Regions from separate parts of the Homo sapiens genome. Here all the other regions are linked to region 2. Evidence: fine-mapped expression QTL. A gene starts in region 2. Each other region holds a variant in brackets. All regions are shown on one strand. Distances are between the middles of the regions.

What was found. PIP is the estimated chance that this variant, and not a neighbour inherited with it, causes the effect. A credible set is the group of variants that fine-mapping cannot tell apart.
Region 1: its variant is the best candidate, but not a certain one, in a credible set for the expression of ADD2 in whole blood (INTERVAL, PIP 0.89).
Region 3: its variant is the best candidate, but not a certain one, in a credible set for the expression of ADD2 in whole blood (INTERVAL, PIP 0.80).

The regions. Positions count from the first base shown.
Region 1 is chr2:70,664,320-70,667,078 of GRCh38, forward strand. The region is part of intron 15 of ADD2 (adducin 2); the gene reads right to left. Among named protein-coding and RNA genes, the nearest start is that of ADD2, 100 kb to the right of the region's middle. The variant C/T (reference allele first, on the strand shown) is at 1,246.
Region 2 is chr2:70,767,067-70,769,825 of GRCh38, forward strand. ADD2 (adducin 2) reads right to left here and starts at 1,134. Exons shown (of 16, transcript NM_001617.4): 1 at 820-1,134. RefSeq lists enhancers at 269-834, 835-1,400, 1,810-2,374.
Region 3 is chr2:70,823,444-70,826,202 of GRCh38, forward strand. It overlaps a transcript of CLEC4F not described here and a transcript of CD207 not described here. Among named protein-coding and RNA genes, the nearest start is that of CLEC4F, 4.2 kb to the left of the region's middle. The variant A/G (reference allele first, on the strand shown) is at 1,281.

The DNA of each region.
Region 1 (2,759 bases), 100 kb before region 2:
CAGCCCTTTCTAGCAGCCACTGGGGCCCCCAGGTCTTTATTCCACCTGGGAATCTGTCGGGATCGCGGGAATGTTCAAGGCCAGAGTTACTCAGGCCCCAGAAACCAAACCCTCCTGCCACCCTTTCTCCCCCTCCCCACTCTCACTCAACCTTGCTTCCACACAACCTTTCAGATGCCTGGATGGGGTGAGAGTCAGGGAGATTGTAAAACCACAGACTGAAAAGTAGAAAGCAAGGTAAATATTATCTGATGCCTCTCCTCCCCACTGCACAGTTAAGAAGGCTGAAGAACACAGTACCATGGTGGGCAGACCTCGGCTTACCAACTTCCGGTTCAGCTTCTTCTCACGACGGGAACTGAAAGGAGTGTGTGTGGGTGAGCACGTGTGAGTGTGTACAAGTGTGTGTGAGTGTGCAAGTGTGTGTGTGGGTGTGTGAGGGTGTGCAAGTGTGAGTGGGCAGGTTGTGTGTGGTGTAAGTGTGTAAGTTTGAGTATGCAAGTGAGATTGTTTGCCATGAGTGTGTCTGTGTGTGTGGTGTGAGCATGTGCGAACCAGTGTGTGTGACAGTGAGTGGTATATGAGTGTGGGAGTGAGCGTTTACAAATGTGTTTGTGTAAGTGTGTGTGAGTGCACATGAGCATATGCGAGGGTGTGAATGTGTGCGAGTGAGTGTGTGACACACCTGTGTGGTGTGTGTGTGATGGGCACATATGAATGCAGTGTGTGTGTTGCCACATCACAAGAAGGAACCCGGCATGCTGAGGTGTATGGAATCGTGGGTGATGTGGAAGGTATAGTCAGTGTTACAGAGGGAGCGAGTGAAGGACTCAGTTTTAGGAGAAGCCTGGGGTCTTAACAGGGGTGAAGTCTGGGGAAGTGCACGGTTACATGGAGGATGGGACAGAGTGGGGTAACTTGTGGACAGTTAAAGTGGACTAGTGAACCACCTGGGCCAGATCTCCCTGTAACAAAGTCTTTGCAACTCCTGACACTGCTGGGCAAGTCAAAGTGCCCCCTCCAGACCACTGCGGAGCACCAGCTCCCTCTTGGTATCAAAGACTTTGGCCACTGCTCCCAGTCTTCCCACTGCCCAGCCCATGTCCTGTCATCCTCATCCAGTGTCCCATCCCGTCCCGCCACGTAATACTGTGGCCATCACTTGGCAGTACTCTTGAGTGCCATAAACCAGGCTGGACACAACCATCTCTCTGTCCACTCTCCTATTCCCACTTCGCCTGCTTC[C/T]TGCCATACCAAGCTGCTGGTCCTGGACCTCTCACTGTCATCCCAGCCCATTCCCCTCTGGAAGGCCCTTCTCTCTCCTCTGTGTCCCCAGCCTTCACTCCATATAATGAATCACCTTGAGTGTTACTTCTTCCTTCAAGTCTCTCCTGATCCTCGTTCCCACTTCCAGGTAGAGTTTATCACTCCTTCCTTTCTGCCTCTGCTATCTAAACTTCCATCACAGCATCTGCAAAACGATCACACTTGTTTTTTTGTTTTTTTTTTTTTCCCGAAACAGTCCTGCTCTGTCGCTTAGAGCTGGAGTGCAATGGTGGAATCTCGGCTCACTGCAATCTCCACCTCCTAGGTTCAAGCAATTCTCCTGCCTCAGCCTCCCAAGTAGCTGGGATTACAGGTGCCCACTACCAAGCCCAGCTAATTTTTGTATTTTTAGTAGAGATGGGGTTTCACCATGTTGGCCAGGATGGTCTCGAACTCCTGACCTCGTGATCCGCCCACCTTGGCCTCCCAAAGTGCTGGGATTACAGGCGTGAGCCACTGCATCCAGCCCACACTTGTTTTTTATGCCTATCTCCTCCCCCTTCTACACTGAAATGAATTAGGGCAAAATTGTGTCTAATGACCTATGTCACTAGCTCACAGAAGGCACTCAGAAAAGGTCTGTGGAATCCATGAATGGTTGAAGGCATGAGCAAATAAATGAATATGTGAATGGATTTATTCTAACCAAGCCAATATCATCACCTAATCTTTTCTTATCTATCCCAGCCTGAGCCTTCTAAGCTGAACTGGATCCACTCATGTAAATGAACACCAGCCCTGAGTGCTGGCCTTTGTCTCCTGTACCTATGCCCTGGTCTTCCCTCTCATCTTCCTGGGCTCTCCAGGGCTCTGCAACTTCAAACTAGACCCTCACTGCAGGGCCTTCACTTGGATGATACATTAGGATGCATTTCTCAAGACTGACCCTTGGCGCTCTCCTCTAAGATGGTTGGGGCACTTGCCTTCTAGCTCCGTGAAGACAACTATGGATAAGAGGGGCTCCCACTTTCTGTCCAAGTGTCATTTCCTGCCTGGTGGCAATGAGTATCTTCACTCCAATGGCCTCCTTCAACCATGCCCCTCATCCATGTCCCTTTGCCCATACCTGCCCTGCTGTCAACCTAAGCAACAGCCTCAGCCCCTGGTGTGTGTCTGGTTTAGGAGAGCAACACCCAAGGTTCTTCTCACCATGTAGAAAGTGGGGGCCACAGATGGTGCATCTGCCATGATTCAGAGAGGTTCCACATCATGAATTGTTTGAGGAGTCATAGCAAATGGAAAATGGGGCTTGGAGGAGCCAGGTTCCCAACTAAGGTCACCACTCCCTCAACTATAGAGTCAGAGACCACTGGAGGGTTCCACTGGCCAAGAGAAGGGACAGGGCTCCAGAAATCAACATGTGTTAGGCCCCTGGAAAGTACTGAGGACAGGCTCTGATAGCCTAGACCCCTCCTCTGTCAACAGGCTGAAAA
Region 2 (2,759 bases):
TCTGCATCCTAAAGCAGTCTGCCCCTCCCTCCCTTCCCCCCAACACCAGGTAGGCTGTGGTGTGATTTAAAAATAAGCAGACACCGACTCCCGCCTCCGGGACCGGGGATGGCCTCCGCCCCGGCTGCAGAAAGGGAGGGGAGGCAGGGAGAGGAGAGGGAAGATGGAAGAAACAGACTGGCAAGACCCCCTCGGGTACAGTGGGATTTTTCCCTCCAAAGTGGTGGAGCCGCATAAAATCAAAACCCACGAGGCCCGCTCACGTGCCGGTTGCCCCGATCTCAATGTAGGCGGCTGCCGACGCCGCACCTGCTCGGCCGGCCACTGCGGCTGAGCGCCGCGCAGCCAGCGATCGCGAGGCCCCGGGGGACGCGCCCAGCCCCGCCAAGCCCGCCTCGCACCGCTACCCCGGAGGGCGGCGGCCGAGCGGGAAGGAAAGAGAGGGGAGGGGAGGGAGGGGAGGGGAGGAGCGGCCCCGCCCGGCTAGGCGAGGCGAGGCTTGCCGCCCCTCCATTCGGACCCAAAAGAAAGCCCCACCTGTCAGGCGTTACGCTCCGGGCGAGGGTCCCACCATCCCCAAGCAGGGGCCAGTGCTTGCAGCCCCGATTTCCTAAGAGCCTCGGATGCTACATCATCACCAGAAACCTTTAGGCGCAAAACACACCGCTGCCGGCCAGGGCTGCAGCACCGACGCGCTCGGCAACAGACGCGCCCCACCTGGGCCAAGCGGCTCCCGCCCGGCCGAGGGATGCCAGGGTCTCCGCGCCAGGAGACCAGCGACCCCAGGCAGCCCACCAGGCCCGCTCCCCAGACCCTTACCTCCTGCGCGGCATCTTAGCTATCTCCGGTCGGCCACTGCGGGTTGGTTTTGTTATTTTATGGGTTTGGGGGGTGGGGTGCGCTTAAAAAATCCACCCAGCTAATCTGCAGGGCAGCGTTTTCTGCCCATGCTGCAGCCCGCGCTCGTCAGAGCTGCTGGGAGATCCCCCAGCAGTGCAGCGGCTCCGCGGCGGCGGGGATGACTGGCCACCGACGCCGCAGTTCCTTGACAAAAGGCTCGGGTTCCCGCTAGTCCCTCACAGCCCTGCCGTCAGAATTAAAGCCATTTCCCGCACGAGGCTGGGAGGAAATGAGAGCTCTCCTGGCCCTGCGCGCTGACAAAAGGCCGCTGCGCGGTGCCCACAGCGCCCCCTCCAGCAGGCCGCGCCGGCCGCCCGAGGGCCGCGGTGCTGCAGTGCCCCCGCCCGCAGCGCCCCCCACCGCCCCGCAGCGGCCTCGCCCCGCAGCACCCCCACTACCGCCCCGCAGCGCCCCCCTCCTCCCCGCAGCGCCCCCGCCCGCGCCGCCGCAGACCCCCCTAGCCAGGCTTCCAGCCCCCTTCCACCCCCGCCCCGCACCACTCACTACCCGGGATGGCCAGAGCTAAGCAGGGGAGTCTGTTACTAGGGAGAAAATCTGAAACAGAGCTCCCTTGGGGGAATGTATTCTCCCTGGAAGGAAGAAAGCAAAAGTCTTAGACTTGGAATATTTCTTTTCGTCTGGAAAGGACAGCTAGCCTTCGGAAGATAATTCTATTAGTGATTTTAATAGCAATTGTTTGACTGAATTCCAAACCAAAATTCTCCCTGTCCTGATTCTCACTCCTTTTCAACCAGGACAACATTTTTGTTGTGGCCCTGCCCTTGGGGGCTGTGGACCCAACGCTCTCCAACTCTCACTACATTCTCCTCTCACTCCTTTCCTTCCTCAGGTCTCCCGCCCCAGAAGGAACAGGTGTGTAGTGAGTGGGGAACTGGATAGGGAACCAGAATACTTCGGTTGCCGTCTCAGAGCTGCTCTTAACTAGCTGTGAGACCTTAATCAACCCACTTAACCTCTCTGGGCCTCGTTGTCTTCCTCTGTAAAATGACAGTGTACCTAAGGCACCTCCCATTTCCAATACTTTCAAGGCCTGGCCCTCAGAGAGTAGGGGTGTTAAGAGATAGCTCTGGACTTTTCACCCCCATAATCTCCACCAGTCCCCAAAACTCCCCTCAATCAACATCCTCTCCAAGGGCTTTTGAAAATGTGCTTGTGAAAATGTACAGCTTCCAGAAAAGCCTCTGGCCACTGATCTGAAACCTGATCATGGCCCCTCTGCCCTTCCAGGTTCTGGGGCACCACAGCCCTCAGACACCCCCACAAAAGTCACTGGCCCCCACCACAGTGCTGCTGTGGAACCAGAATCTCTGGAGGTAGGCTCAGGATTGGTAATTTTAACAAGCAGCCCTAGTGATTCCTTTGCACACTAACACTTTAGAAACACCACTCTGAGAGCTACTACTGATTTAGAAAAGAAAATGCTAACGACAACCCTAGATGCCAGGATAAACTTGTCTTTCTGCTTCAGCCCCCCTTCCAAGAAACATACATGCATACCTGGTCCCTGCACCCTCCTTCCACACTCAGAGCTTCTCACTCATTCTCATTCAGAATCACCGAGTCCACAAGACTTCTCCCCATTCTCCTGTCAAAACCTGCTAGAAGAATTACAACAGGCTCAGCCACACAAGATGAAACCCCTTCCCCTCCCCACCCCAGGACCTAGGTCTGTCTGGTCAAAGAAGCCAGGACGTGTTATGTTTATTGAGTCATTCCTGGCAGCCATAGCTCTTTTGGTGCTAATGGGTGATGAGATCTGAGAAACAGGGAACCCCTTCTCCAGAGCTCAGAAGTCACAGGTAAGGTGGGCTCTATATCTTAATAGAACCCCCAAAAAG
Region 3 (2,759 bases), 56 kb after region 2:
ACAGGAAGGGCCCAGGCTGGACCTACTCAGGACCTATTTCCTCCTGAGGCCTGAGAGCTGAGGGAACCTCGAAGGCAGAACTCTACGGATCCCTTGCCCAACTGGAAGGTCAGAGTCTGGGCCAGGAGAGGGGCATAGTTCTTCCCTGGCCTCCCCACCCACCCTCCGGGCCCTAGCTCTTCTATTTCCCACAGGAACACCATCTACCAGCAGGGCAGAAAAACCAGGGGGTTGCTATGTCTTCACTGAGAGGCTTTCTGTTCTCTGGCCAGACAAAAACAAATGGGCATTAATACAAGAACTGGCCAGGCACGGTGGCTCATGCCTGCAATACCAGCACTTTGTGAGGCCGAGGCAGGTGGATCACTTGAGGCCAAGAGTTCAAGACCAGTCTGGCCAACATGATGAAACCCTTGTCTCTATTAAAAATACAAAAACTAACTGGGCATGGTGGCAGGTGACTGTAATCCCAGCTACTCGGGAGGCTGAGACAGGAGAATCATTTGAACCTGGGAGGCGGAGGTGGCAGTGAGCCGAGATTGTGCCACTGCACTCCAGCCTGGGTGACAGAGCAAGACTCCAAAAAAAAAAAAAGAAAGAAAGAAAGAAAGAAAGAGTCTACTTGGTGGGACTAAAGCCAAACCAGAGGGAGCCAGAGCCAGGAGAGGGAGAGAGGCGGATTCTTCTTTATGTTTTTTAATCCAGGACATTTTATTTAATAGTAGGGACAGCTTCTTGACATGATGTGAGCACTTGTATTCAGCAGTACAAAGTGTCCTGATTTTACACCCTACAAAATACAGCAACAACAATTCAACACATTTACAGGCCTGAATGCAAACCACCTGGCTTTTATTCCGTTCGTCTCCTAACTGTTCTCCCTGCCTCTCCTCTTACCCCCTCTCAAGTCCTGTCACCATGGTGCAAGCATAATGATCTTTTCAAAAAAAATTAGATGTACACACAAATATTACTTAGCTCTCTCAGCTGGGAGAGGCAATGATGTTCAAATAGCAACAGCCACACAGCCCCCAGGTTTTGATTTCTAACACCATTCTCCAAAAAAAGGAAACCAGGGCTCATTAGAGAAATGGCTGACTCTAGAACTGGGGCAGGAAATACTCAAGATGAGCCTGGAGCATCTTGTAGTACCAGAAAGTAAGGAGATGCTTAGTTACCAAAAAAAAAAAAAAAAAAAAAAAACTGAGGGAAGTATGTCAAAATGACACAGGAACCAATGAAGGAGCTCCCAATGGCCAAAGCCAGAGCAATTTGAGCAA[A/G]AACAAAACAAAAAAACAAATAAAATAGTATTGGATTATAACCCAAAGTGTAAGAGAAATATCTGTGAGTCCATACTGACATAAATGAATGTCTGAGTAAGTAAACAAATAGATAAGTCTCTAGGGCAGAAAATGTCCAAATATTTTATGTAAATATCCCATTCTGAGAAAAGTAGAGTGTAACTTCCTACTCTTTCAGTGTGAACTGCATATAGTGACTTCCTTCCAAAAAGTTCAGTACAGGAAAAGGGAGAAAAGAGTAATTCTGGAGTCAATAAACTTGGCAAACACTACCCCAGCCTGGAGATCAAGGTCAACGCCAACAGTAATGAATTCTATTGATGGTATGTACCCTTCATAGGATGTGATGAGAATGGCCCTTTATCTCCATGGTCTTCCTCCTGAAACTCAGTACCCCAATGTAATCATGAGAAAAACACCAGACAAATTCCATTTAAGGGACAATCTACAAAGTACCTGACCAGTGGGCTCCTCAAAACTGTCAAAGTCTTCAAAAACAAGGAAAGACTGAGAAAATGTCACAGCCAAGAGGATCCCAAGGAGACATGATGGCTAAATGTAACGTGGTATTCTGGATGGGATCCTAGGAGAGAAAAAGGATGTTAGGGGAAAACCAACGAAATCTGAATAAAGTATGGACTTCAGTTAAATATTGGCTCATTAATTGTGACAAATGTACCATACTAATATAAGATGTTAACAATCGGGGAAATGGGAAAGGGTGGGTATATAGAAACTCTCTGTATTATCTTCACAATTTTTCTGTAAAGCTGAAACTATTCTATAATATAAAGTTTTTAAAAAAAATTTTTGAGACAGGGTCTCACTCTATCACCCAGGCTGGAGTACAGTGGCGTGATTACAGCTCACTGCAGCCTTGACCTCCCAGGTTCAAGCAATTCTCCCACCTCAGACTCTTGATTTGCTGGGACTACAGGCACACGCCACCACACACGGCTAAGTTTTGTATTTTTTTTTTAGAGACAGGGTCTCCCTATGTTGCCCAGGCTGGCCTCAAACTCTTGTGATCAAGTGATTCTCCTTGAGTTCTGTGCTCTGTGAACACAGGCATGAGCCACTGAGCCCAGCCTAAAAAGGTATTTAAAAGATATTAGGGATGGCTGGGTATGGCAACTCACACCTGTAATCTAAGCACTTTGGGAAGCTGAGGCAGGAGGATCACCTGAGCTCAGGAGTTTGAAGCCAGCCTGGGCAACATAGCAAGACCTCATCTCTACTAAAATTAAAAAAAAATTAGCTGGGCATGGTGGTGCACACCTGAGGTTCCAGGTACTCAGGAGGCTAAGGCAGGAGGATTGGTTAAACCCAGGAGTTCAAGGTTGCAGTGAGCTGTGATTGTGCCACTGTACTCCAACCTGAGTGGCAAAGGGAGGCCCTGTCTCAAAAAAATCAAAATTAAAAAAAGACATAAGTAGTAATTATGGAATCTCAGAAGAC